3 separate regions of the Homo sapiens genome follow, and all the other regions are linked to region 1. Evidence: fine-mapped expression QTL. A gene starts in region 1. Each other region holds a variant in brackets. All regions are shown on one strand. Distances are between the middles of the regions.

Evidence for each region. PIP is the estimated chance that this variant, and not a neighbour inherited with it, causes the effect. A credible set is the group of variants that fine-mapping cannot tell apart.
Region 2: its variant is the best candidate, but not a certain one, in a credible set for the expression of GALC in whole blood (TOPMed, PIP 0.52).
Region 3: its variant is the best candidate, but not a certain one, in a credible set for the expression of GALC in gastroesophageal junction (GTEx, PIP 0.77).

The regions. Positions count from the first base shown.
Region 1 is chr14:87,988,673-87,998,791 of GRCh38, forward strand. GALC (galactosylceramidase) reads right to left here and starts at 4,510. Exons shown (of 17, transcript NM_000153.4): 1 at 4,298-4,510. The coding sequence starts at 4,492. It also overlaps the pseudogene RNU6-835P. RefSeq lists a silencer at 4,178-4,367 and enhancers at 4,323-4,823, 4,518-4,847.
Region 2 is chr14:88,017,614-88,027,975 of GRCh38, forward strand. It overlaps LINC01147 (long intergenic non-protein coding RNA 1147), which reads right to left and starts at 8,699. Exons shown (of 3, transcript NR_110121.1): 1 at 8,475-8,699; 2 at 6,062-6,163; 3 at 992-1,090. HISLA (HIF1A stabilizing long noncoding RNA) reads left to right here and starts at 6,937. Exons shown (of 4, transcript NR_046094.1): 1 at 6,937-7,056; 2 at 7,794-7,868. The variant C/T (reference allele first, on the strand shown) is at 3,980.
Region 3 is chr14:87,694,838-87,705,199 of GRCh38, forward strand. No RefSeq gene overlaps it. Among named protein-coding and RNA genes, the nearest start is that of LINC02330, 45 kb to the left of the region's middle. The variant G/GC (reference allele first, on the strand shown) is at 5,146.

The DNA.
Region 1 (10,119 bases):
CCTTTCTGTGCCAATCATTGGGCAAGTAGGGCTGCTGTCTGTCCGACAGCTAAAAAAGTTCTCTTCTTCTGGCATGAGGGCTAACTGGGAGGTAAGCTTGCTAACCTCATGATCACAAACTTATCTTGAAACTCAGGTTTTCTATCTTGAGACCACTTGACAACAATATCTCAGGACTAAAATGGGAGGGATGAATGTCAGGTAATTTTTCCCCTTAACATCTTCCGGAAAAACATCACAAGCAGCAATGCTGAAAGGAAGCACTACTTTCCCCATCCTCATAAATTCTACCTGTTACTATTAAGAATAACTAGCAATAATCTCCAGACCAGGCTGTACTAAGAAAACTTAACACAAGAGTGGCATCAGAATGCATGGAAAGACAAGGGTAGACAGCGCAGGGACCAATACTGGATCATGCCTGGACCACGGCATACAACTATTTGAAAAAAGAAATCACAAAACCAGTAACTGACCCATAATCTATCCTTTGGGAGGCAATATAAGCAAAAAATAAATAAAAAGAGGCCGGTTTTTGGCATGAAACAGTAGCCTCAGGCTTGTAAACCAGACAGTCCTAGGTTCAAACTGCTGACACTTTGCCAGGTGTATGTATGATGGTTGGGACAAAATACTTTTATGGGGTTCAACTTTCTATTTTATATTCTCATATATGCTACCACTGACATTCTGGTAAGTGCCCATATCTACTCTGTCACACCCAAAACATCCCCAGTCCCTACCAGTGAGGCAAACACCCATGGAGCTGCTCTCTAGCCACTCTTTCCATCTACCTCAATATATCCCAAACCAAACATAGCACTTTTGCATGTATCTGCTCCTTTTCCTGAACTTGCTGTCTCAGTAACCAACACTTGCCGAAACCATAAACTTGGGCCACCTTTTGTCCAAACTTCCCATGTACCCTCAGTCACCAAGATATCCTCAATAGCTCTCAAATCCCTCCTCTACTCTTCAACCCCACTGACTTACCCAGGCCCTCCTCACTTATGAGAACAGTATAAGTGGTCTCAGGACATCCCTTCTGCCTCTCCCTGTATTCTATCTTCCATGCTACTTACGAGAGTAACCTTCCCAAAATACAAATGTAATCACGAAACTCTTCCATGTAAACATGCTAAGACCGTCCCTTTCCCAAAAGCTTTCAGGATAAAGTTCAAATCGCTCAATTTTGCACCCAAATCCCTTAATTATTTGGCTCCTAACCCTGATACTTTATCCCTTATCACTCTCACACCTTCTACCTAGATGTATCAAACAACGTTTTCTATTCTTATGCCTGGAATGCACCCCACATCCTCTCTTGGACAACTCCAATTCACCTTTCAGCTCAAATTCCACCTCTGGAATTTGAAGGAAGGATGCCTTCTGGCCCTGCTCACTGATTTGATGTAAGCGCCTCTCCTTTGGCACCAGGTCCATATCTTTATTACAACACTTTGAACCCCGGCACTCCTTTATTTTTCTGACTCACCTCTTAGTTCCTTAAGGACATGGACTGTATCTTATTCAAGTTTGTATCCTCATTCTTTGTTATTCAATAAACACTTATTAAATATTTTATGGGTCTTTTGTTGCACTGGTACTGGCAACATAAATAGGAGTCTTTGAGTCAAATGGAGTTTGTATCCTGATTTCATCATTAATAAGCTATGTAATCATAGGCAAATTATTGTAAAGTGGGCTATCTTACTCATTCAACTGCTGTAAGACTAAAATTAGATGTATGTAAAGGACTTGGCACATTACCTGGCACATAGTAAGTTCTCAATAAAGGCAAGTGTTATATACACAAATTTTTTAAAATACATATTTCTCAAAGAGCTTACAACCTAGCAGAGGCTCCAATATTAAAATAGGCACTCTTTAAATGAACACTGTATAGGCACACTAATATATCCTTGACCCTAGGTAAACAATGCTTCCTGTCCTACGCTACGCCATTAATACTGTGCGTTTTGCTGTCTAGGGTTTCTTTTGCCCTCTATGCACTCCCACATTTAACAGAGAAAGTATCGGCTTTAGGCAAACACACCAATCATGTTATTGCAAACCTATAGCCACACCTAACACAACAGCATAAGTCAAAGGCAATATAACCAAATGTTAAAATGCACCATCTAGCAATAGCAAATCACGGGATTACTAACCACACTGCCTGAATGAGGCCTGGAACTGTTTACAGGCCCAGGAAAAAGCCTTGGGGACATTTCATCATTCAGTGGCCTTGAAATAACTTCCTCCTCCCTAATCCCTGAAAATGGTTATTAACCAAAATTAGTAATGTGCAAGACATCATCCTAAGTACTTTAGGTCTATCCTCACGGCGCTCCTACCATGCAGGTATAACTGTATCCCAAAAAAAGAAAGTGAGGCAGAGAGGAGTTATAATAGATAACCCACCAAGGCCACACAGTGAAGTGGCAGAACCCAGAAGACACTCTTGGCAATCTTCTCTTTAGTCTACATTCTTTTTGTTTTGTTTCGCTTTGGTTTGGTTTTTGGGTTTTTTTGTTTGTTTGTGTTTTGAACGGAGTCTCACTCTGTCGCCCAGGCTGGAGTGCAGTGGTGTGATCCCGGCTCACTGCAACCTCCGCCTCCCGGGTTCAAGCGATTCTCCTGCCTCAGCCTCCCGAGTAGCTGGGACTACAGGCGCGTGCTACCAAGACTGGCTAATTTTTTGTATTTTTAGTAGAGACGGGGTTTCACCGTGTTAGCCAGGATAGTCTTGATCTCCTGACCTCGTGATCCGCCCGCCTCGGAAGCCCGAAGTGCTGGGATTACAGGCGTGAGCCACCGTGCCCGGCCCTACATTCTTAACTACTTACTGTACCATACCGCTTTCCCTCTCTGACATGAAGATTAAATGACAGCACTCTAAACACTTACTGGCACAACCTGGGCTAGGAACCAAGGACTCCACAAAGAAGTTTAAAGTGGTATGCAAATATAATGTTGCAAGAATTTTCATTATTTAGTGAGTTCCTATGAGGAGTAATGAACTATATAGGGATACTAATAATTGTATATTCTATCAGATTAGGTAGGAGTTTCCTACTTTGAATTACGAAATGATTCTTCTCATCTTAGTAATTTTAAACTGGGCTTAATAAACCTAATGGAAACAAAGACTTCCATTTTTCGGTAAGCTCTTACCCTAGATATAGTATCACAAGTAAAGCTATAAAAAAGATGGGGCCTCACTCCATGAAATATTGGCTGTTTCAGGTTTAGCCCAAAAACATAAAAAGGAGAATAGTAGTAGCAAAGAATAAATGCATTAACTCATCGGCCCACAGGTTTCCCCTGAAATACACATCAGCACGGCTGGAGAGATTGCAAATTAGGGAATGAAAACATAAAAATCAAAAAGGATCAGCTAACTCCAGGGGGAAAAAAATTTCCCCTAGCAGAAGGTTATATCTTGTGGTCACACTACAGACCAGGTCATCCTTGCAGCAGGCATTCAAGCTTGTTCTGAGTTGAATGTAAGGATGCAAGCTCCATCCAACTCAACCCCAAAAATCCGAGTTCAACCTTAACATTTTCAAGAAACATTAGCCCTAGATGTAATTTCGGATACAAAACCAAAAAACAAAAACCTTCTCACCCAAAGGTCGGCCACCATGAAGCCCATGGGCCCAGAGGGAGTACCCGGTAGTTTCAGGCCGCTCGCTTATCTTCCTTTTAAAGAGACCTTGAGGCACCAGTCCTGCCTCCAAACGAAATCCTATTCGGCGCTACCCTCTCTGGAGGAGCCCATTCTTACCCTGCACTAACAACTGCACGGGACTTAACGACTCCACCACCCACCAACTCCTCCAAAAGGGAGAGACACAGCCAAAGCATCCCACTGGGGCGTTCTCTTTCGCACACGGACGCTCCCGCACTCCCTGGCCCTTTCTGGAGCGACGCTCCCCGACTGCCATCTCCGCGATGAAGACAGCCTGTGCCCCACTGCCTGGGACGAGGGTTCCAGCCCCGGCTACTTCACTACTTAGACCTGTCACTTTACTCTCTGCACCTATACTCTCTGGACCTCCGGATCCTCATTTGTTCAAACCTAACTGCCTGTCTGGTTCGTGTTAAACGAGAAAGCACCCGCCCCAGCCCCGCAGCGGGCCCGCCCCAACCGCCTGCTGACTGGCACCCTAGGGGAATGCGGCGGAGAGTGGAGCCGGTGGAAACGCAGGGCAACGCCGCGGGGGCTTGTGGGGCTGGCCCCACGGGGCGGGCTCTTGCCGCCCCCCGCGTATCCCCGCAGCTTGCCGCTCACCCCGCCGCCGCTGACCGCGCCGATGCCGTCGAACTCCCGGCCCAGCCCGTCGGAGTCGTCGAGCACGTACGCGCCGCCGGGCGCCAGCAGCGCACACAGCAGCAAGGGCACCGCGGCGCGGCCCGCCGAACCCGCGGCCGCAGTCATAGCTTTCGCTCGGCGTTGCCAGGAAGCCGAGAGTAGCCACTCAGCCATTGTGTGGGTCACATGACTCCGGCGCCCAGGGAGGCGGGTCCCGTCGCCGCCACGATAGATACGGGCAGGAGGCCGCTGATGCTGACGCCGCCGCCGCCATTTTGAGTGCGGGTCAAGGGCCTCTGACGCAGCTGGCGGAGTGTTGAGAAAAGAAGCAGCGAGCTTTTTCTTATCGCTCGCGTGTCTGTGGTCAGCTACTGGATTTCACATGTACTTACTGCTGGCTTCTCTTCCGGCGTCACCTGGTGGAGCACTTTAACGCAGGGAAGGTGGATTCCAAGGTCCGCCAAAGGAAGAGGGCCATGAGTGGCCCTACCATGGCTCTTCCCCAGCATCTCAGGGAGTATCTACCTCGTGCGAGGACCAGGCTTGGACACCAGGTCCCGATTCCATTGTCATCTTGGTGGAATCACTTTGCTTTTGGAGCCTGAGTTTTCCCTTATGTGAGATGAGGCGAGAAGAGCAGCAGAGTGAGGGACTGAGAGAAAAGTTAATAAGCACTCAGTACATTTGAATGCATTCCACAAGTGGCAAATAGCTGAGAAGGTTCTCCAGTCTGGTAACTACCCCGGCATATTCAAAGCTTTTAGCCTTGAAGGAGTTAATAATATACCACCTCAAAATATGCTGCTGTGGCATATTGACTATTTTAAATTAAAGGCACTTAAAAACAGCAGGTGCAAGATCACTGTCATGGATATTATGTGTCTTAAAAGGAGGAGATGAAATTCCCATGTGAAAGATGTCTTCCCTATAAAATAACATTGTTATCTTCAAGGACAGAAAGTTGAAGTCGAGGGAAATCTGTCCAAACAAAATTTGTTAATCCCTATCTTTCTAGTCGCTTCTTTACCCCAAGCCCCTTCGCCTTATCATGTTTCACAACTACTATTTTTTGTCCATTTCACTCTATAAGCAATTGGCTCTTAACTGCTGCTTTAGGTCTTTTTTTTTTTTAATGAGGGCCCCCGTGCTATGTAAAATAAACATTTGTGTGGTTGTCTCCTGTCAGTCTATTAATATCTTAAATCAATTTAATACTAGGGCCATGCTGGGACCCTACAGGGACGAAGGTGAAATTTTGCCTCCCCTACAATTTTATAAACTATCTTCCACTGTCAGTTGAAGTGATTCCAGACAGGTAACTCTAAATTGGTAGGAAAGTTGTGAATTGCCCTGAATTTCTGCCACATCCAGCACTGTCCTGAGATTTCTGATTTCCTTGTTATTGAAGTAAATTAAAGAGACTCTGAAGAGCTGCAGAGAAAGATTTTCTGATCCCCAAATTTCTCTTAGCAGAAGTATGGAACTGGTTATCATTGCCTACACAAGCCCCTGAGATACCACAATGGCAAGGAAAAGACCCAGAGACTTTAGGACCTGTGGGATTTGTCTGCAGAACCCTATTTGGAATCTGATTATTTTGCCCCTTAACCACAAACCTAAATCTAAGTTTCAAGAACTCAATTATACTTGAAGGTCAAAGCTCTGGGCAATCCAATAAATATGCACATTAAGAACCCGATATCCCTGGGTTCTTAATGTACATTAGATATGTTTGTTCTTTCTTTCTTTTTGAATTGACTCTACGTCTATCCTGGTTTACTAAGGACAGTCACAACTTTTGTCTAAACATAATTACTGATAATGCTCCTTTCACCCTCAGTAGTCTTCTGGCTTGGATCAGTTAAATAGTCCCCTGTGTATGAACCACTTATTTTCTTTGGTTTCTTCTTTCCCCAGTACAACACGAATCTGAACTCTCTGCCTTGCCACTGCAACCAGTTTATGATGCAAGTCAGTAATTTTCAGTTCTGTGGATTTACTGTTACAGAATTCACTCTGATCCATTTGTTCTAACACAGTATTTTAAGCATGAGCTGGAGCTCCTGTGGATACAAGCCACAGTAACCATTCCATCAAGTGAATGTTAAGCTTCTCTTACCAGCTCTTAACAAGCGCATAAGACCCACTTAATACCGTGACTAGATGGGAAATACCAAGGTGATGACAGAGGAAACTACCTTACACATAAAACTAGGAAGTTGCATGACGATGTATGAATACCCAGCATACACCATCCTGTAGTACGTCATTGTGAAACGGGTCAGTGGTCAGTGGTCTCGTTGTCTGAGGTGTTATCCAAGCTTGTTGTCTCACAACCAAGAGAATTAAGGAGTGTGGACACCAGAGTGAGGTTGAAGAGAAAGTTTATTATATGAAAGAAGAAAGCTTTCTTTCTTTGCCATTTTGCCACTTTTACAGTTGAATCCAAAAGCTTTTATAAGAAACTCCTCTCATCTCTGTAGCTGTTTGTGTAACTTACTTGTAAAGCTATCTGTGCAGCTCCCCTTATCTGTGCAGCTGTGGGTATGTCTTGGGTAAGGATAAAGTTCAGCTTCTCTTGTTTGTGTAACTGTGGGTTCTAGGTAATCACCCTCTCCACCCCCATGCAAGTTCCCACAGAGCCCACCATGTATGTGCCTGAAAAGGGGAAGAAACTTTTTCCTGGGAACCTGCTAATCACACAAAGAACAAAAGGCTTCTATGTTGGGCCTTCCTTTCTTATCAGGGCAGCTGTTGCCTGAGTTTTCCCCAGGCCACTCTATGTGTGCCTGTAGCTTGATTTTTCAGGCTGTCTTTCTGTTTAAAAGAATTTTACCAAAGACCAACTTTAGCTGTCTGCCCAACTAAGTTTTCCCTTTTCTCGTCCCTCAATTGCACCTTGTAGTTGGAATGCACGCCACAAATATTTGAGCAATGTGTGAAGTCTACAAAAGAGGAAGCATAAACTCTAATGGAAAAGGTAGCCTCACTTCCAGGAAGTCCCAGTAGTTCCTATTAGTTCAGTTACCAAAGAAATTGCTTACCAGATAAATATTTTTTGTTTCTAATTTCTGATCTATATTCATGAGAGCAGACATGAGGTAAGAAAGTTTCTAATAAAAGGCCAATAAATACATGCTGACAGAAATCCTTGGAGTGCTGGGCACGGCACTCAAATGTGCTCAAGATGTGAGATAAAGAAAAATGACAGTTACCCCACGAGTGATCATATGCTTAGCTTCCCTTGCGTCTGTGGATCAGGGTCAGTGAGATAAGACGGTAAGAAAGGAAGGTCCCAGTTTTCAGATTTTAAATGAGTTTAAAAAGTAATGACAGTGTTTCTCTCTCTGTCTTTTTAATCTGAAACACTTCAAGAATTTGCATGTCATCCTTGCTCAGAGGCCACACTGATCTCTGTAACATTCCAGTGTTTGTAAATGTGCTGCCAAAGGAAACACGATGATTTTTCTCTTAAATAACAGGTGTTTCTAAGTATCACAACTATACTTCAGCCACCCCAAATCTCTCCTTTTTCTAAATAAAATAATGTGATCAAAATCAAATAGTCTCTTGAGAAGGATCAGAGATCTTGCCTTTTAATGAAAATTTATTGATAAACTCTAATAGCAGTCTGGATTTTTTTTTTTATTTCCCCAAGACTATCATAAAACGGTATGATAGCAGTCTGTTGTCTCACTTCAGGAAAAGGCTTTACTTTTATAAATCAGTCCACCTCCCCTTCAGTCTACCATTGATGGGCATTTAGGTTGATTCCATGTTTTTGCTATTAGGCTGTCAGAAATTCCAGGGCAGAGGCCAAGTTTATTTCTTCTTTGTATGTCTTAAGCACAGTGCCCAAACTGTGCTAAGTACTCAATAAATATTAGTTGAATTGAACTAAAAGACAAATCACTGAATGGTCACATAAGGGGATACGAATAAAGAATTATTTACAAAAGGAGTTGGAAACGTTTCTTAAAGTAGGAATCCCCTGGGACATAAGAGTGTGGAGTGTTTTCTTGAACTGTCCTGTAACATCTGCTATATTTTTTACCTTTTATTTTAGGTTCAGGGTGCATGTGCAGGTTTGTTACAAAGGTAAATTGCATGTCCTAGGGTTGATGTACAGATTATTTCATTACCCAGGTAATAAGCATAGTACTCAATAGGTAGTTTTTTGATCCTTCCCCATCCCCCATCCTCCACCCTTAAGTCGGCCCCAGTGCCTGTTGTTTTGTTGTTGTTTGTGTCCATATGTACTCGATGTTCAGCTCCGTCTTATAAGTGAGAATATGCAGTATTTGGTTTTCTATTCCTGTGTTAGTCTTCTTAGGGTAATGGCCTCCAGCTCCATTCATGTTGCTACAAAGAACATGATCTCATTCTTTTTTTTTTTTTTTTTTTTTTTTTTGAGACAGAGTCTTGCTCTGTCATCCAGGCTAGAGTGCAGTGGTGCGATCTCGGCTCACTGCAATCTCTGCCTCCCAGGTTCAAGCGATTCTCCTGACTCAGCCTCCTGAGTAGCTGGGATTACAGGGTGTGCCACCACACCTGGCTAATTTTTGTATTTTTAATAGAGACGGGGTTTCACCATGTTGGTCAGGCTGGTCTCGAACTCCTGACCTCGTGATCTGCCCGCCTCGGCTTTCCAAAGTGCTGGGATTACAGGCCTGAGCCACAGCACCTGGCCTGTCATTCTTTTTTATAGCTGCATGGTATTCCAGGTTGTATATGTAACACATTTTCTTTATCCATTAATAGACCACTGATGGAGATTTAGGTTGATTCCATGGCTTTGCTATTGCAAATAGTGCTGAAATGACCATCCACTTGCATGTGTCTTTATGGGAGAATGACTTATATTCCTTTCAGTATATATCCAACATCTGCCATTTGTCTGGTCTTTCAACTCTGGACGTGTTTCTTGATGGCAACTGTTAGTTATACTGCCCTACTGAGTGACTTCTCTCTAAAATATGTTATAAGGCTCTATTCATTCAAGATTTTATATAAACAAAATGAAAATAAGTCAAAGGACAGAATCCACCTAATGAAATAAATTATAAATTGCTTACTGAACATTTTCTTAAGTATAACTACAAATAAAAACTTCTATAGCAAAGAGCAGTGTAGTATAGTAGTTAGAATACTGGCTCTGGAGCCCCAGGTCTCCTGGCTTCAAATCTTTCTCCTATTGCTTAGCAGCAGTGTAATTTTGGTTAAGTTATGTAACTTCTTTGGGCTTCAGTTTACCCATCCATAAAATAGAGATAATGATGGCAATACATTAATGTGAACATTGGACAAGCTAATATTTTTATAGCACTTAGAAGAGTGACCCACACATCCTATGTGTTATATAAGTGCTTATTATATAAATAATAACATAAATGACATACCTATATAACTATCGTACAACTTTTGAGTTTACTGCTTTCCCCACAATTAATTCTGCAAAAACAGATTATTCCTGTCTTTGTATTGGTCTCAGTTTTTCTTTTTGCTGGGTTGTTGTCCACAGTCATCCAAATCTATGTTGTGTGTGGCTGATTCCTCATAGTGAGAGTCTTGGTGTGAAAGAGAATTCTGCCTCCTTCAGAAGTTAAGGAGCCAGATCCTCTCTCTTACTGTCCTTATCAGTACAGGCTCTGACAATGACCAGGCTTTCTCAATCAGTTTCTTGAACCTGCAAATTTGACCTTGGAAGAGTAACTAGATGTATGCACAGTTGAGAAATCCCACAAGAGCCATATCAGAGTCCAGAGGAGGCAGCTGCATAGAGGCTCCATCAGAGGTGGCCT
Region 2 (10,362 bases), 29 kb after region 1:
GAAACAGTGTGTTTTATGCTTCAGGAAAAGGGTAAACTTTAGCTAGAAAAAGCAAGTCAGCATTGTTTGTGAGTCACTAGTGAGTGGAGTCTCAAAAGCCAGACACTATGGGGAAATAAAAGAACTTTTTAAACCTCTTAGGCTCCCATCTCATATCAAGAAGTAGGCCTGGCTGACTTAAAATTGGAGTTTTCTCTATGCCAGGGGGTAGTGAGAACCAATCATGATGTAAACGAAGCTTCTATTATTCAGGGAAATGAAAAAGCCTGGGCTCCTGACCGCAGTGGTCTAAGGGGAGGAGGCAAAGAAGAGTTAAAATGAGGATGTCGGAGACAAATGTTGATCCTCATGGCCTGAGATCAATAGAATTTCCAGAGTTGCCAGGATGGTCAATGCCAATAGTCTGCTTTTCCTGAAGATAGCTGCAAGCCTCTGGGGAAAACCCCATATTCAGCCTTATGCATGCACTTTACTGTGGTACAAAAATAGAGACTGGCATACAGTTGTGCAGGTTGAGTGTTGCACAAGAAATCCATGTCTAAGAGGGCACCATTCATTTAACAGACATTGAAGATTTGCACATTTATTATGTCCATTTTAAAGCATATGGCAACAAGATGCTTGCTCTAATAAAAGCAGCACGACAACTTTCCAACAACTGGAAGGAAGGTATCATAAGGAAGACACATCTTACTTTTACAGAATGCCCCATGAGCAGCATAGCCCTGCCTCTGCCCTGCTACCATAAGGTCACGTAAGCCTCTCCAACCCCGGAACCACCATGGGAGGAGCTAAGGTAAGTGGAGTATATCTGAAAGACTGAATGTTTAGCCCAGAGTAGCTGAGCTAACCTAAAAAGACAGTTTAAGCAAGAAAACGTGGTGATATCATTAATTCGCAAGTAAAATAATTTTTTGCACTGATACCCAGTAGGTTGGTAAATCAGAAAGAAGAATAAGAATAAGGAGTAGAAGAAGAAGAAGAAGAAACAGTCAGAGAAAATAAGCTACTGTTTTAGGTGCACATGCAGTTGAGTTGTTGTGTGACCACTGTCTCTCAGATGTCCCAGCTTTGACAGGAGGTGGCCTCCCTGGAAAAGAGAAGAAAACATAACTTTTAAGAAAGGATGAGTTCATGTCCTTTGCAGGGACATAGATGAAGCTGGAAACCATCATTCTCAGCAAACTAACACAAGAACAGAAAACCAAACACCACATGTTCTCACCCATAAGTGGGAGTTGAACAATGAGAACACATGGACACAGGGAGGGGAACATTACATACCGGGGCCTGTCGGGGGTTGGAGGGCTAGTGGAGGGATAGCATTAGGAGAAATACCTAATGTAGATGACGGTTTGATGGTGCAGCAAACCACCATGGCACATGTATACCTCTGTAACAAACCTGCACGTTCTGCACATGTACCCCAGAACTTAAAATATAATAATAATTTAAAAAATGATACTATCCACCTATGATCTAGAATCCAGGTTGAATATAGGTCCAATCACCTAGTGCAATGGTTCTCAAACTTTAATGTTTATAAGAATTAACTAGGAATCTTAGTTTAAAAGATTCTTATTCAATACATCTGAAGTGGGGCCTGAGATTCTACATTTCTAAGAAATTCTCAGGTAATGCCAGTGCTGCTGGGCCCTGGGTGTGGGTGTGGAGTTACATAATTTTAGAGTCTAGAGAAGAGGTTCTCAAACTTTAGTATGGATGAGAATCACCTGGAGAGCTTGTTAAGACAGAGCGCTCAGACTGTAGTCTACTCTTGTGTCATCACTGAGTCTTGGCCAATCAAAGGTGACCAACTCTTCAAACTGTGTTCAAATGATGCAAACATCAAGTAGCAACCCATCTGGTTGTTTCTGTACCTCACACCATTTTCTGTATGTCACTTTCTTTCTTCTATCTATAAATCTTCCACCATTTGGCTGTGCTGGAGTCCCTGAGCCTACTCTGGCTCAGGAGTCTGCTCAATTTGCAAATTGTTCTTTGCTCAATCCCTCATCCCCAGAGATTCTGATTCAGCAGGCCTAGGGTGGGGCCTGAGAATTTGTGTTTTTGACAAGTTCCCTGATAACACTGATGTGAGTGGGACACACTTTGAGAACTACTGCTCTCAAATAGAGTGCAGCCCTTTCCTAAGTACCTCCTATTAATTGCCATCTACCAGAAAAAAAGGTACAGTCCCACCCAGTGAAGAGATGGATCCCTCCCACCCCCAAGTTCAGGCCCAACCTGATGTTTGCTGAGACAGAAATTCTCAAGCTAAGGTCTAGGCTCAAAGACTGCAGCTAATCAGGTTTCTGGCTGTGGTCTCTAACCTGCAGAATTGAGAAGAAGCAAACTGAAAGCAGCCAGCTTTTTAAGGGATCTATGTGATCTTTCACCCCTGTCTGATCTCATCACCCAGTGGTGCAGGCCACATTTGGTTCTTATGCCATGCCTTGGCCAATGGTGTTCATATCCATCTCTTCCTCCAAGTTGAAAGCTATTTAAGAACAGAAATCATGTTTAATTCACGTCTTAATTCCCTCTGAGCCTATCCTCAGCTCCCTTCCTAGAAACTAGCAGAGTTTTACATATTCTAGATGTAACAGGAATCCTATTTAGAAGACATTAAATTGTTACATTTTCCATTCCCATATAAGTGATTGTTCTCCCAAAGGCTTTCCATCATTAAAGCCCAGTTTATTGCCCAGGAAAAAGGAGGAAAGTATCAAAATGCCACAATGCATGAAGGAAGATATTACTTGGTGATGCCCTACTGGACAGTGTTAAATCAAGTTTAGCTTAAAGCTGCCTCCTTGTGTATTTTAAGTTCAGCCTAAAGGTTTCTGTGTACATCATGAACTATAACCTAAATGGAGTTGCACTCAGACTGTAGTCTACTCTTGTGTCATCACTGAGTCTTGGACAATCAAAGGTGACCAACTGTTCAAACTGTGTTCAAATGATGCAAACATCAAGTAGCAACCCATCTGGTTGTTTCTGTACCTCACACTAGTTTCTGTATGTCACTTTCTTTCTTCTATCTATAAATCTTCCACCATGTGTCTGCACTGGAGTCCCTGAGCCTACTGTGGCTCAGGAGGCTGCTCAATTTGCAAATTGTTCTTTGCTCAATTAAACTCTGTTAAATTTAATTTGGCTAAAGTTTTTCTTTTAACAACAAAAAGATGAAGTAGATATACCTTCTGATTCTACGAAGAATCCATGAGGTACAGAAAGCGAGAGCAAGAGATAGGACATATTTCCGGATTCATATTAAGAGAGATCAGCAAGGAAACCCAGAAGCAGAGCGGCAGAGGGGACTCATGCCTTGTTTGGGGTTCAGGGAGGAGATCACCTTTTAGGGCACCCCTGCATTAGTAAAATTGCAACAGAACAGAAAAATCGACATGGTGGTATACCATGGTGGTGATACTTAAGAAGAAAAGATAACTGGGAATAGGTCCTCTGCTGTGGGATAGGGAAGGAATCCAAACATTGTCACTTGCTCCCAGAGGAAGAAGAGTATGGAAGAGAGATGAGGGCCAGTGGGCCTCCCATGGATCCCAGTGGGAGGGAAACTTGACCCCATGGCAGAGGCTGCTGGGTGGAGAACCAAGGCCCAGGGTGGATGGAGGAGGCAGCTGAGACCATGGGGAGCTGCTGCTCTAGCAAGAACCAAGACAAGGGAGTATAACTGGAGGGGACACAGTAGACCCCCAGCAGACCACCAGATCACCAATTATACTGACTGTGGTCTCAGAAGCTTCTGCCAGGGGGATGCCTAATGGACAGACAGGACATCATCTCAAAGGCCAGAGGGGACCAGAAGACAGTATGAGGAGCAGCAGGTTGACATCCTCACAGCAAAGAGGACAGGTAAGCTTTCCTCTCCATCCAGTTGCCATCTTATGGAAGACTACATCTTGTGAGAGGCACCTCTTGTGGAAAGTGCCTTCTAGTGAGTGGCTCTCCAAGA[C/T]GAGAAACAGTACTAAGAGGGGCATGGAACTTAAACTTGATTGAGTCTTTATCCAGAAGACATAAACAAGTCTTTAAAAGACTATTTAAGCCAGCAGACATGGAAATATCTTCTATGCACAAATTTAGGGTTTTTATTTCCCCACCAATGGTGGGAATGAGGTTTTCAGGGCGCAATGATGATAGTTTCTTTCCCACATCTAAATGTAGTGTGCAAATATGTCACCTTTCAACTCATCAAATGCTTGGCAAATTATGCAGGATTGTGCTATTACATTGATTTTACATAAGCCTAGTTTGTTTAAGCTAAATTTTCATCAAATAAAAAACAATAGCAGAAAATAGAGCTACTGTGAACAGCCCAGAAACAGTGCCTTGGTCATTGGATAGTGGAACAATGAATGGATGAATAATGAGGAAATTAAGTACTTTTCAAAATTTTCCTTCATCTTTACTTTAAAACTCATTTGTTTTTCTGGCATCCTTTGATGAAAATAATTTTCATCAAATGGATGCCAGAGGAAAGTATCAAAAAGCCACAGTGCATGAAGGAAGATATTACTTGGTGGAAACTTGGAGGGCTTGGAAGGGTTTTTTGAGTCCCTTTCAAGGAGGATAGACATAAAGATGCAATGCTAACAATCGCAATAACTATCACCACATTTCACTTCTGGTAAACATTGAATATTTCTTTGGACATTTGGTGTGCTGATTAGATTTTAAGAGAGGTATTATGAAAATTATATAGTGTATTGGGTTAATTGGACTGAAGTGGGAAGATGGTATGAGCTCTCCTGGGAGTTATCAATAGGGCTGACCAGGGCTGGGTAGGGCCCTTATTTGTAATGATGTCTGTCCTTTATTGGGTGGACAGCAGTGCTGCAGTGAACGTGCTAGGAACAGAGAATGAGCTCACTTTGAGGCATAACTGTTCTTTCAGTTCTAGCTGACCTGGAAGATTGGCTACTGTTGATCCTTGTCCATGTTTAGCTCTAGAAAGGCATTTGAAGAACATCCAGTACAAAACCCTCATTTTATAGGTGAGGGATCTAAGCCCAATTCCAAGTCTCCCAGTTCATAAATTTTTTCTTTACTGTAGATTTTTCTGGATAAAGGTGACAACAGATCACACACACACACACACACACACACACACACAAAGATTATTGGTCCAGGGGAGAAAAGTGCAGGGACACTTTCAGGTATGGCTGAATTCAAATGCTCAACCTCTGTGGCCAGGAGGACATTTTCACCATCTCTCAGTTCCACCTTTTGCTATTTTATTTTGGCTTTTATATGATGTCAAAGATGGTTAACAGCATCTCCAGGCCCAGGTTCCACAGATTAGAAAATCCAGCGGGAAGAGAGCCTCTTTCTTGGTATCTCTGGAAAATGTAAAGGTTCCCCTGCCCTTGTTCCTTCCCATCTTTAAACTGATCACTGTGGTTAGGGGTGTATAGTTTTCTCATAAGCCAGGGCAGGGCCCCATGCCTGCCCTGGAGAGTAGGGTCGGTCCCACCATAATAACAGAGACTGTAAGGAGAAGAGAGGATCGTTTCTCAAGGGAAAATCAGGATGCTGTTACCAAACAAAGGAGAGAAAAGAGTCTGTTTCTATGACTACATCTTTCTGGGCTGTGTGGTCCAAACACACCTGTGACACCAGACATGTCCCCTACATTATTTTCCATTGAAAACGATGTTTATTTCCTTTTATACATGGTGAGAAATTGAGTTTCTTTGCATAGAGAATAGACTCCTTCAGAAATATTCATTCTGGAAGGTAATGTCAGGAAGGATCCTGGCAGGCAATGGAGAGATCACTCAAATTCAGGTATTCTGAGGAAAGTTTAGTAAAGAGATATTTACAAAGGATGGGCAGGGTACAAGGAAGCCACAAGGATGATGCGTGAACTGGGGATAAGAACATCTGGGCACCCTGAGGCCCCTGGCTCTGAGAGGGCAAGCAGAGGGGGTGGTTACCAAAGCTGGAGGCACAGAAGTCTGTCTGCAGACCCCCAGGCATAGCCAGCCTATGGCCAGGCATTAAAATGAGAACTAGGGAAAGAAACAAAAATCCATACCTGCTTCTCCTCCCTCCCTCCAACTTGCTGCAGGAATTCCCTATTGAATGAACCACCAGGAAGCCAGTGAGAAATCTCTTTGTTGTAGGTCCTAAGATCAGCCTCCCAGGGCACAACGGAAGAAGGACAAAAAGTGGGAGCAGAGAAACAAACAGGAAGTCAGTTTCTTATCTATTTTTACACTCTATTCATGGGCTCATTCAGGGAAATACCCATAAGATGTCTAAACACATGCCCTGGTCTGATTTCCAGTGGCATTGACTGCTAAACATGTATGTTAAAAATGGCCTGTGTAAACATCAAAATACATGAGACGGTGAACATATCTAACAGCAGTATCAGTGTGGTCCCTTGAGGCTTCCTCTTGATTTGGAGGCATGAGGTTTGTTTGAACTTTTGTTCTTTCATTTACAGGCTACGTGACCTTTAACAAATGAGATAACCTCTCAGAGACTGTGTCCTTGTCTTTAATAGGAGGATATTTCCCCTGCCCACCTAATGGTATCTGTTATTCAGTGCAAATGAAATATTGGATATAAAAGTATTTGAGAGTGATAAAGTACTAATGTTATATTGATCTTTTCAACCTTAAAATATGAGCATAAGAAATACAGATTAATATTTTTATGGGTATGATTTTTTGCAATGTTTATTTCAGAGTTCTACGTGGGGAAAAGAAAGAGAGATCAGACTGTTACTGTGTCTATGTAGAAAGAAGTAGACATAAGAGACTCCATTTTGTTCTGTACTAAGAGAAATTCTTCTGCCTTGAGATGCTGTTAATCTGTAACCCTAGCCCCAACCCTGTGTTTGCAGAGACATGTGCTGTGTTGACTCAAGGTTTAATGGATTTAGGGCTGTGCAGAATGTGCTTTGTTAAACAAGTGCTTGAAGGCAGTATGCTTGGTAAAAGTCATCGCCATTCTCTAATCTTGAGTACCCAGGGACACGATACACTGCGGAAGGCTGCAGGGACCTCTGCCCAGGAAAGCCAGGTATTGTCCAAGGTTTCTCCCCATGTGATAGCCTGAGATATGGCCTTGTGGGAAGGGAAAGACCTGACCGTCCCCCAGCCAGACACCCGTAAAGGGTCTGTGCTGAGGAGGATTAGTGAAAGAGGAAGGCCTCTTTGCAGTTGAGATAAGAGGAAGGCATCTGTCTCCTGCTTATCCCTGGGAATGAAATGTCTCAATGTCAAACCCGATTATACGTTCTATTTACTGAGATAGGAGGAAACCGCCTTATGGCTGGAGGTGAGATATGCTGGCGGCAATACTGCTCTTTAATGCACCGAGATGTTTGTGTACATGCACATCAAGGCACAGCACCTTTCCTTAAACTTATTTATGACACAGAGACCTTTGCTCACATGTTTTCCTGCTGACCCTCTCCCCACTGTTACCCTATTGTCCTGCCACATCCCCCTCTCCGAGATGGTAGAGATAGTGATCAATTAATACTGAGGAAACTCAAGAGACCAGGGCTGGCGCCCGTCCTCCGTATGCTGAGTGCCGGTCCCCTGGGCCCACTGTTCTTTCTCCATACTTTATCTCTGTGTCTTATTTCTTTTCTCAGTCTCTTGTCCCACCTGACGAAAAACACCCACAGGTGTGGAGGGGCTGGTCCCCTTCAGTTCTAAAGCCCACTTGGCTCATTCCACATGTGGCAGTATTTTTTTACCATGTGAACACCAAAATGAATTCGTGGCAAATGCACCTCCCGTTTATTGCAGGCTTGCATGAAGGAAATGATTTCCTATGATTCTGCTTACTGCTTAAAAAAATTAATCAAGTTTTCTGCCTGACAAGTAAGTAACTGTGTTTATTTTCTGTTCATGACTAGGCAAAAGCACATAACATCCCTATGTGTCCAGTGAGTTATGAAAGTTCTTTAAAAGCAGTGCATTAGCCATGGATCTTCCTGCTATCTCTCCCCTGCAGTTTGCTGAGAATGTTTTCCATAATAGAACCAGGCTTATCACAATTTATTCCTGCCTTACTGACTACTAGGTCATTGCCTAGAGTTCTGAACCCCGGGTTGGAAGCTGTTAAAATTTAATAAAAACTACTTTAGAGAAAATGGTCACTCTCCCTTCATCCTCTCTCACCTCCCTCTGGCTCCTTGACCCCCATCCCTCCCTGAAGATGCTGGTCGCTAAGGCTCTTTTAATAGACTTCCTTATTGTCCCAGGTTTCTGGGAATTCATCAGTGATAGCTGCCATGGGTATGTTGAGAGGATACTATATGCTGAGAACTCCACATCTGATATTTTACTTAATTTCCCCACAATATTATGAAGTAGATGTTATTTTCCCCATTGTACAATAAGAGATGGAAAGCTAGAGAGGCTAAAAGCAGAACAAGAATTTGAACCCAAATGCCTGTGACTGTAACCACCATACATATAGCCTACCTGTTTCCATGTTGTTCTAGCAGGATCCTTGTTTTCTTCCTTCTTACAGTAAAATCTGACTGATCACTGTTGAGTAACGGATCTTAATTAGGTCGAGATGCGGAAGGAGTTTGCTCCTGTAATTTCAGGAGGTCTTTGCATATACCTATTATTGCAAATAGATTTCGCTTTATTGGAAAAAGGCTATCAGTATTCCCTGGGGACTCTATTTTTACAGCTGAGACTGCTGCTCTCTATCAGTCACTATGAAGTAGAAATTCTGATTATGATATCACATAAGATTCAAGGCCACTAGTGATAAATGTTCAAGAGGAGGTGTGTTCAGCTTTGTGATACACTATTGTGATAAAAATATGGCACAGGATTTTAAAAATATGAAAATGTAAAAGGAATACAAATATGATAAATGATTATAAGTCTATGTATGGAATTTAATCTATTTTTCCTAAATGCTGACTGTAAGCGGTTTAGCCCAGTGATATAAACTGTGCCTGAGAAAGGTCCCAGTCAATTTCATGCTGTTCATGTGCCATTTATTTTTACTTTTTAAGTACATTGGGAAAATACATAAGAAAAAATGTACATTCATCTTTTTAATGATACTATAAAAGATGGTGAACAAGTTAATCGGAAGAAAAGAAAAACAATTCATCTAGACATTCTTGCAATGAATTTTTGCCAAATGCTTAATTTTTACTAGATGCTAGGAGAATTGGGAAGCCTTAAGTCTGACACAGGATCCAGAGACAAAAATTACAAAGTAGTGAGTGCTATGGTAAGAGTTAAGTAAGAAGGTTGGATAAGATGTCCACTACTAGCTCAATCTTGAAAGCGTCCAGGACACTTGCCTCTGAGACCTAAACGACTGAGTGGGCATTGATCAAGAGTGGGAGGTTGTTTCAGGGTCAGCACATGCAAAGGACAGGCTCCATTTTAGGAAAATGAAAGTAGTTCAGTGTTATTGAAGCTGATGGTGAGGGAGGAAGTGGCAGAAGATAAAGGCTGGAAAGAAACAAGTCAATAAGAAGCCACAAAAAAGTTGTAAGTAGATGAATGACATGATCCAATTTGTGCTTTAGGAAGATTACTTTTGTCTCAGTGTCCAATATAGGTGGAGGGAGGCAAAATGAGAAGCAGAGAGTTATTTGATGGTGGAAAGAGAGAGCTGTTCAAACAAACAGGCAAGATTCAGTGGAGACCTGAACTAGGCAGGTGGCATCTTGGGTTGCAAGAAATGGACAGGTACAAAAGATATTTAGAAGGACAAGAAGGTATTTTAGTTGGATGACGTACATTTCAAAGGAACAAGGAAGAAGAATGGTCTGGGAATAGTATTGGTGAGCCAGGAGTCTTCATTTGAGTGGGCTGCAGGGAAAGTTGTGTCCTCAGAAGATGCCACATTTCAGTTATGGTACAATGGGAGGGAACATTCACTGTGGCAGTGGAATCACCAGAGGGCCACAAGTGGATCAGATTGGGAAGTGGGATAATATTCCAGCCTGAATTAGATTGTACAATCCCAGGGAGCAGGAATGAGGAAGGAAAGGGAGTAGAATAGAGAAAAAGGGGGAGTAATATGAGGATGCATTATAGGTCTAACTGCTTCCAGGTATGACTGATTGCTCAATCCCATAGGACCATCTTCTAAGAAGTTGTAATAATTTAATCACAGAGAAAAGTGAAGAATTTAGCCACTGGCTGCAGCCTCCAATTGGTCAAAGGTTTGTCTCACAGAGCATGAACCTCCCTGCACCTCCATATAACACATATTTGAGTGCAACAGGGTTCTTATATAAGTATCATCAGGGTGGCCCCAGGGAAGGAGGTGAGAAGTTGCAATAATGTCAGGTTGCGCTTGCATGCAAGTGATCAGAATATACCCTAAGAG
Region 3 (10,362 bases), 290 kb before region 1:
AACAACCTAGGTATTCATCAGCAGATGACTAGATAAAGAAAATGTGGTACTTATACACAATGGAGTATGATTTAGCCATAAAGATGAATGAGATCCTCTCATTTGCAACAACATGGATAAAACTGGAAGTCGTTATGTTTAGTGAAATAAGCCAGTCACAGAAAGACAAACTTGGCATGCTCTTACTTATTTGTGGGAGCTAAAAATTAAAATAATTGAACTCATGGAGATAGTAGAATGATGGTTACCAGAGTCTGGGAAGGGTAGTGGTGAGGTAGGAGGGAGCTAGGGATAGTTAATGAGTACAAAAAAAAAAATAGGTAGAAAGAATGAATAAGACCTACTTAGTACTTGGTAGCAAAACAGGGTGCCTATAGTGAATAATAATTTATTATTTTAAATAACATGTTATTTTTAAATAAACATTTAAAAATAATTCTAAGAGTATAATTGGATTGTTTACAACACAAGGATACATCTTTGAGGTGATGCACACTTCATTTACACTGGTGTGACTATTACACATTGTATACCTGTCTACCCCATAACTATATAAACCTATTAAATATAGAAACCACAAAATGTTTTTAAGAAAAGAACTTGGAGCAAAGAAGAGACTCAGTACAAGTCTGAGCTGTAACAAAGAGATTCCCATTATCTTTCCATTCAAATATGTTTCCTAGGGACAGGAGTCAAAGGTCAGAGTGAAGCATAAATCCTCAGGGCTCAGACATCTAGCAATCAAATCTGGGATTTGTGCCACCTATGGGTGAGCCATGTGGGTTTGGGGAGGTTGGTCACCCAAAAGCAACTGTTTATTTATTGAATGGCTCTCCCCACCAGAATAAAAATGCCTATTAAATAGGCACTTTGTTGTTTTTTCCTGTCCAGAGCAAAGCGTAGCCCAGAGTTGGTATTTAATAAGTATACACTGTCTGAATGCAGACTTCTTTTCTGCCACTTTTCTCTTAAGGTAATTATGTCAAATGCTTTTGTTTCCCTGCTCTGCATTGCGCCCATCCCACCGTCAATCATACACCATCATTATTATGATCCCCATCAAGAGTTTCTGGGGTTTTCAGAGTTTTCATAACAGAAAGACTTTCATGATTAGTCACATATCCTGTGAAACGCATGGTTATAATTATAAAAATATCCATAATATCCAAAACTTACTGACAGCTTATGTTAAACCAGGCATTGTGTAAATAGCTAAATAGGTAATGCTCACCACAAAAAATCCCCATTTTACAGATGATATAATTCAGGCTTACAATGAGAGCGCATAAATAACTTGTCTGGGGTCACACAGAAAAGAGTAAGGAATTATACCTAAAGCGAATTGATTTTAGACTCAATTTTGACAATTAAACTACAGAGCTTGACACAATCACAATGAGAATGTAAATCTTTTATACCAAATCCTTTGTTCTTTCCAAGACCTCCCCTTGAAAAATATGTTATGCTCTAAATCCATGGGTTGAGACTGCAGAATTTAGTACGATTTCCCTGGCTCTGAAACCAAAGGCATTTTGTCTCTTCACAAAGTGAGTGGACATAGAAAGTGCCTATAAAACAGCTGAGGGCTTGTTTTCAAGCTGTATTGAAAACCTTAGGACTGGGATGGTTCCCAGGCAGAGCATGTGAGCAGACAATCTCTTCAGTGGGCAGGTACACAGTGGCAGCTGCAGTGATTCCTGAGGAGGAGTCAGATGTCACAGCCCTCTTCAGTTAGGTTATCCCAGGCCTGCCAGCTCTGTGTACCACTGCACTTTAGACAGACTGTGACTGTTTGCAGACATGAGGCTTAGGGAAGCCACACACACCAGGCACTCCTATCAACTTCTCCATGGTAAGGCCAGAGAATAACCACCCCTAGGCATCCTGTCACCTCAGCAGGGCCGAGAACAAGTCCCTGTACAGTCACTGCAGTCCTCACTGCATAGCACTCAGAGGCAGACAAGAGAATCTCTGACCATGATTAATGCCCCCACAGTTCCCATCTGAAGAAGGAGCTGTCAGCAATTCAGATCTCCATTTCAGAAGAAATAGTATTCTGTTGTACTAGTTAGGGGACCATTTCAGCTGCTGAAACAGAAGCTAAGGGAAGAATGACTTGAATAAGAGAGCTTATTTTTCTCCAAGGTAAGAGTTCATACAGAGCAGTCAGGACTGCAGACTGCCCCACAGTGTCAAGAAACTAGGCATCTCCATCTGGTACTTTGATACCTCCAGCATGCAGATTCTAACTTGTGGTCCATAGTGGCTGCTCCAGTGCCTTCCATCATGTTTATATTCCAGCCAGCAGAAACGGAGAGGAAGGGAAGTTGAAGAGGAGGACATGTTTCTTCCTTTTAAGACTTCAGCAAACAATTAGCACTCAGACCTCCCACTCACACACCATTGGGCAGAATTTAGTCAAGCAAACAAGTGTCATGGGAGGCTAGAAAATGTAGTCTCTAGCTGGGAAGCCAAACAGTTGGGTAAATCATATGACCAAAAGAAGGAAAAATGGATATTAGAGCATGTGCTTCCCATTTTTACTGACAAAATATTGATACATACCCTTCCTCTTAGGCATGGAATACCCTCCCATCATCCCCAAGAGAGATAACTTAAAGTTCTGCCCAATTTCTGCAGGCAGCTCAAATTTAGTAACTCTGGGAGTTGCACGGTTCTCTCCATTAGGTCTGATATGGATGCCCAGAGTCTGAGCTATCTACAAGCCATTGCTCTAGAGCAACATGGTTGAGTAGAGTCAGGGCAACTGCAGTGAAAACCCCCGTTCAGGAAACAGGTGAATGGAAAGGATGGCAGTTCCTTGCCCATGGCCATTTGCACATCATGCTGGGCAGTGAAACAAATTCTTTGGGTAACCTGTCTGGCAGCTCTCTGGATTTTCTAGGAGAAACGCCCTTGTCTGTTATCTTTCATGGACTCACATACAATGAAAACTGAACAGTGTTTCTTTTTCAGGGTTGCACAGGTTTGCTGTCTGTTTCCTAGTGGTGCATATAGGAACGTCTGGGGTTACTTTAGGGGTTGAAAAATCAGACTTTTGCTGGCTGGGCTTGCAATTTCTTTGGAAAAACTATTTTCTCAAAAACATAAAGATGTATTTGCTTCCAAACACTTCCCAGTTTAAGCAACCACAACCAAAATTCTCCTTTAGACCTATCATAGTAAATGAAATTTCTTGTGTTTATGTACTTTATTTATTGGCCTTCATGCTCTACCCAACTCCCTCTACCATCCTCTTTATGGTGATTTTGAGGACATCTGAAACAAAAGCCCTGGATGGGAGCACAATGTTTATAATCTGATTTTGCAGTAGGAATGGCTCCCATTATCTAGCCAGAAGCACTGAAGAAGGTACCTGAGAAAGGCTTGGGGCCACTGAAACAGCTGCTGCTGTTGCTACTTCCTTATCACTTGAGTTCATCTCTTTGGTAGTCCTGCAAATAACAGGAACAATCATCCAACACCAACTACCACCCTGTTTTTCCAACCAGTTCTGCTACAGTCACATACTCTGGTGGCATAATGTGGTCTTCTGAGATGCTGCAGGTGACGGTTTTACTAAACGTTTTGCCCTGCCATGCCCACCTACCACGTTGTCAACTGTGAGGTAAATATGCTCAATTTTATGTCTTAGTGTGGTAGCACCCCCTGTCTAAATCCCAAATTCTCTATTAGCTGCTCTAGAAAAAGCTAAAATAATAGTGGGTTAAACAAAATCATTAATTCTCTTTCTGGGACGTTCTGGGCTTACGTAGACTAGGGCTGTTATAGCAGCCCTCTGCCAATCAGGCACCCAGGCTCCTTCTGCCCAGCTGCTGCGCCTCCTCAATGAGTCACTCCCACACTGTGGTGTAATGTTCCTGCTTTATTTGCTGATGCATTCTAATCACCAGAAAGGGGGAAGGTCATGCAGGGCACATGACCTTAATTTGGGTGTATAACATGCAGTTGGCATGCCTCACTTCTATCACACCCCATTAAGCCAGAAGTAAGCCATATAGCCACCCACAGGTTTGAGGAATTCTAGAAAATAAGGAGTCTTCAGCTAGATAAGCATAGACTCTGGAATTCTATTACAAAAAAACAAATGGGAAAAGGAATACTAGGGACAATCTGTGGTCTTCAGAGGATTAATTGACTCCAAAACTGGACTGGAGAAAGTTTTAAAAAGCTTTTCATTCAACTCTCCAGCTATAAGCATGAGAGCTGAGAAAAGAGGGCAGAACAAGATGGAGTTGGTAAATTCAGTATTTGTAATTTACGGTCTTTTTCCTCTATGGAAGCAGTTTGGAAATAAGTCAAACTCCACAAAGAGAAAGCTCAAAATCCACAGTCAAGGTAGGACAAAATTTCTTATCAACACATTGATTCTCTAACGCTAACAAATCTTGAAGGTAGAAATGTCAATTCTGGGATAATGACAGGCTGAAGGTATAGTCAGTATGTTTAAAAAAAAAATCCCTGAGAGACAGGGTAAATTCTGCTTCAATGAAAGTGAGCGTATCTTTATTAGAGTTGACAGAGATCATTAAAAAGTGAAAGCAGGAACCCGATATATTGATGACACCTCTAGAAGTTGGCCTTACAACCACAAGCTGTATTCAGCGGAGTATGTTTTTTCCTGTCTCATGCAATGAAATCCAATCTCACAGAAGTTTTTATTTGTTCAGAGTGATAGATAAGCCTCCTAAAGTATGGTTTAAATCAATATTCTATTCCCCAAGTTAACTGAAACTGCACATTCATTTAATGAATAGATATACATGCAACTTTATAAACACACAGCCATAATACAAAAAAAATGGGGAGGGTTACCCAAAACAGAACTTTGCTTTGTAGGATGCTCTTTCTTGAGTTTCTAATAATGAAATAAATAACATATTTCACATTGCCTAATGAAATATCTTATATTGTCTGTTAGTAGGCTGGCTTTATCAGCTAGCATGAAAACTGGAATCTGAGGAGATTAAAAAGAAATTGAATCAAATGATAATAGTTAACATTTATTAAGTGTTAATAGGTGTATTAGTCTGTTCTCACGCAGCTAATAAAGACATACCTGAGACTGGGTAATTTATAAAGGGAAGGGGTTTAATTCACTCACAGTTCAGCATGGCTGGGGAG[G/GC]CCTCATGAAACTTACAATCATGGCAGAAGGGGAAGCAAAGTCCTTCTTCACATGGCAGCAGGGGAGAGAAGAATCAGTGCCCAGCAAAGGGGATAGCTCCTTATAAAACCATCCAACCTCATGAGAACTAACTCATTATCAGGAGAACAGGATGGGAGAAACCACCCCCATGATTCGATTATCTCCACCTGGTCCCTCCCACAACATGCGGGAATTAAGGAAACTACAATTCAAGATGAGATTTGAGTGGGAACACAGCCAAGCTATACCAGTAGGATTATTAAGTGTTAATAGGTTAACCAGCACTTAAAAGCTGCCCATTTCTGTTCATACATATATATACACACACACACATACATATATGTGTGTTCATACATATATGTGTGTGTATGTATATATGTGTGTGTATATATGTATGTACGTGTATGTGTGTGTATATATCTGTATACACACACATGTTTTACAACTCAGTTGATTCTCCCAATAATCTTAATAGTGAGATGCCATTGTTTTTCCCATATACAAATTAAAAAAAAAAAAAAAGAGCCTCAGAGAGGGTAAGAAACTTGCCCAAGGTAATACATCTATTAAGCGATGAGCCCAGGCTTCAGATCTAACCCATTAATCAAGAGATCTTGAATGCTTTACAACCCACCAACTAGAATCCGGATTTTTTTTTCAGAATTTTATGCTTAGTTATTTCTACTGGTAGTAAATTAGAATGATTAAGGGTAATTAGGCATTTTGAGGCCTTCTATGTGCTAGTTACTGCAAAGAATCTCCTAGCCTTGGTGAGTCCCCTGTATTCACCCTTCCTCGGTAGTTCAAGTACATCTTTCCTAAAACTGCACCCCTGTACAAAATGATAATCTTTAAATATATTGCCTCAAGGCACCTACAAACTCTAATCTTATACAAATAATCCACATCTCAAAAACCCCTCAATACAGTCATCAATGATTATCAGTTATGACTACTATAATTCCCTAAGACTTCCACTGTAATTGATTGACTTGAAATGTTCTAATACACCTCTTATGGGGGAGAAGTTGAGGAAACCAAGTACTAAATAAATTCCACAAATAGTCATACTGTTGTTTTCTAAAATCTAAATTACTGAATCATATCCAAACCTCAAATGAACACAAATTTGCAGACAAAAGATGTAATCATAATAGACAAGAGCAGGAGTCATTATAGACAAGAGCAGGAGTCAGCAAATTTTTTGAGTAAAAGCCAGAGGGCATATATTTTAGGCCTCTCAGGCCATGCCGTCTCAGTAGCAAGCACTCAACTCTGCCATTGTAGCACGAAAGTAGCATACAAAACCATAAAATGATTGGGCATAACCATATCCTCATAAAACTTATCTATAAAAAATAGATATCAGATCAGATTTGGCCCCTAGGCCAGTAGTCTGTAGACGGCTGAACAAGAGATTCACTAGAGTTCTGTAAAGGCACAAATATCATACAATCTTTAATTTGGGGAATTAGCTTATGAATGGCATTAGGATGTTCCTTTATTTTTTTCTGGTACAGTCCTAACTTTCAATATTATTTCCTTTTTTTTCTTTGTGTTCATGACTGTCAGAAAAAGAATCCCGTTTTATAGTTCAGAAAGTGAATTTTTCACACCATCAGTAAGTGATATGACACAGAAGAAATTGTTGCTGGAACATGCACTCTATCCCAAAAAGAGCCTCTGCTATGTGCAATGGCTACCAAAGATCCTACTTGGTTAGTTTGCTGCCAAGTCCCATATCCTGCCAAGAGGTTATAAGAGTATTGAACTTACATAAACATGACATATCCATTAGAATTTGTTTTTGGCTAATAGGAAGAGAACCAATTGAGTAAATTGAGTGCCACTGCCTATTGGGCATGGATTTCCTCATCAAGAACACAAGATGAACGCAAGCCATGATTCCAGGCAGAAACAAAAGGAAAAGCAAGGAGTGACAAGAGATTCACTCTTAGCTAATTGAGCTGAAGGTCCACACAATGACTTGAAGTTCACACAATGACTTCTACTTACAATTCATAGTCTCCCTTTAAGTGAATGATACTGGGAAATGCTATCCTTGAGATGTGCACACTACATTGTCAAATAAAATTAAAAGAATATTCTAACAGAAGATAGAGCATAGTCTGGGGAGAGGCAACCAGCCATCTCTGCCACCTAAGTTTCAAAGGAAGATTACTTCTTATCTTCTTCTTTGTTCTCGTTCTACTTATTCTCAGAAGCTAAAGTCAATTGAGTAATATGAAACTCCTCTTTCTACTTAGCATTGTTACACACAACTCTATTTCTGACTTTTCATACTCTTTTTCTCTCTTACAAATTACAAGTGAAAACTCCCGCCCAGAGGATGTGAACAAGCTGGAGTTGAAGGTAGAGCTCATTTACTTTCGAGAAAAGTCTTCTTTGAGTCTTCATTCCCCATTCCCCACACTTCCCTTCTGAGATTCATTCTTTGACCTGTCTGTCTGCTCTATGCCATGAAAAGCGACTTTCACGCATTGCATAATCTAGCCTTTGTTCAATGGATTCTGACTGGGTTTGACCAAGGGGATACATAAGCAGAAGATTGGAGACCAACAGACAAGAGAAGTCATACATAGATACTGCTTGTCCGCACCTTCCCTACTCAAGTGAGGTTCTAGTGGTAGCTATATCTATGACATCAGCTTCTGTGAGCAGCCAGCTTCCTTAGACCTCATGTCTTCTGATGCCCCTTTAGACCTGGGGTGATGAGAGCTTCCCGCTATTTCTGGGCACTGGATGCCTCAATATCCCTTGAAGATTCCTAAACCCTGCCCTCCCCACTATAAACATTATCTTTATTAGCAAGTCTCTTCAGAACTGTCCATTTTCTGCCAGAACATTGACTCTGATACATCTTGCAACTGACTTGTGAATCCATCCTCCCCATTAGGCCAGAAGATAACAAAACTTGAGATTCATTCAACATGCTCAAGGAATGCTGGAAACTTTAGAGATCACTGGAAATGGAAGTAAGACTCCTGTATGCACAGTGAATCAATACGAGCCTATGGCCATCCTGCTCCCTGCAACACTAACACCTGGCATGCTTTACTCATTCTTCCAGGCCAAGTCCAACATCACCTCATCTCTGAAGCCTTGCTCACTATCCATTCCCACCCTTAGGTGGCCTTTTCTGTGCCTTAAAATAATTTATGCATATTACATTATAATTATCTATTGACATATTTAGTTCCTGCCTCTATGTGATTCTGACAGGCAGGAACCCTACCCTTCAGTCCTCTGTCCACAGTGCTAACCCACACTCTAACACACTCCTCTCTGGGAACATGAAGAAGCAGTATCACAGTGAGTTGGAAAAGTTAACTAAAAAAACCACCGCCACCCTAAAAGAGTTTTTTTTTTTTTTTTTTTTTTTTTTTTTTTGAGACGGAGTCTCACTCTGTGCCCAGGTTGGAGCACAGTGGCACAATCTCAGCTCGCTGCAAGCTCAACCCCCTAGGTTCACGCCATTCTCCCACCTCAGCCTCCCGAGTAGCTGGGACTACAGGCACCCACCACCATGCCTGGCTAATTTTGTTTTTGTATTTTTAGTAGAGATGGGGTTTCACCGTGTTAGCCAGGATGGTCTCAATCTTCTGACCTTGTGATCAGCCCGCCTCGGCCTCCCAAAGTGCTGGGATTACAGGCATGAGCCCCCGCGCCCGGCCTGAAAAAGCCATTTTTAAGAATGTTTGCTGAATTGAACAACAATAAGATTTGGAATCTGAGCCATGAGAAGAATGGTGGAACAGGTAATAGAAATTAGGATGTCTGGAAGGCAGCAGATAATAAGCAAGGGGATGTGTGTTCAGTCGATTGTGAATAACGTCGGGGAGGTATAACTGTGCAGGAGGAATCCAGAACCTACAGACTGACATTCAGTGGGACAGGACTAGAGGTAATGACTTGGGAGTCACCCAGATGGAGGCAGTTAGTTGAAGACATGCACCAGGGAAATGTTTCCAAGGACAGGAGTGAAGAGCGGGGATCAACTCTTCAGTCACCCGCCTTGATACCTGGGTCAGTGTTCTGTTTAATGCAGGGTTAAATCCACACTCCTCATCAACATCAGCTCCATTAGATAAAAGACCAAGCTAATTTGCTAACACTATTAAATACATAAAGCCATCAGAAGTAATTTAATGCTTATCAGATATGCTTACTCCCTAATAAACCCTTACCTACCCCTTATTTCAGCCTAATGAGAAAAATGGATTCAGAAAATGAATATATAATGAAGAATCCTTCCATTTATTTTCATGAAAGAATTAGAAGGGGGTTTAGACTGAAAGGGGTGGATTGGCATTTAAGGGGGCATTTAGCTGCTTCATTGACTCCTATTTCATTTCGGAGCGTGTGACGCACGGCTAAGGTTTGTCAACCTTTCATTAGCCTGGGCAATTCATCATAGTTAAATATCATTTAAGTTACAAATGCATTCCCACCATTTAGCATGCATTGAATTTCCTTTAATTTACAAAAGAAATCACCAAACATCAGACAAATAAAGGAGCCAGTTTATCCTCTTCCATGAGGAAGAGCCCTGTGGAAGGACAGATCCTTGTGGGGCCACCAAACATATGCCCCAGGGAGCGTTTGCCATCACGAGAAATGGAGGAATGATTTCACCACTCTTCCCCCTGCGTGCTTTCCCTCAATCGATGCAAATCTCTCTCCTCTATGATTACCCCTCTGCCTTCCCCCACCTGCTGTTTAGGTGGCCCCAAAGAACCTGGGGCTTCTTAGAAGAGATGTTGGCAATCCCCTGGTAAGTCCCAAGGCCTCTGCTTTTCCAATGCAAACCCTGATGGGATCCTTGTGTCTGCCTCCAGGCCAACTCTGCTTCTTCCAGCCTTCTAGGGTTACCTGATCCTGGAACGTTTAGTTAAAAATGACAAGCTCCGATGTCACCAGGCAATCTGCTCTATGTCCTCTTATTAATTCTGCTGGTTCCCTGGAAATGCTCACTCTGAGTTTCGGTCCTCAGAGAAATCAGTCTTATTTGGGTTCTCCTCCTAAAGATGTCTTGTCTTCCTTATATCAAGCTCATTGTGGATCGTGGCTTCTGTCCCAATTGCCAAAGAACCACTAACGCAAAACTGCTCATGTATTCATTCGTGCGCTGAATACAAATCAGGTTACCTAGCAGGTTCCTGACTCTGTGCTAG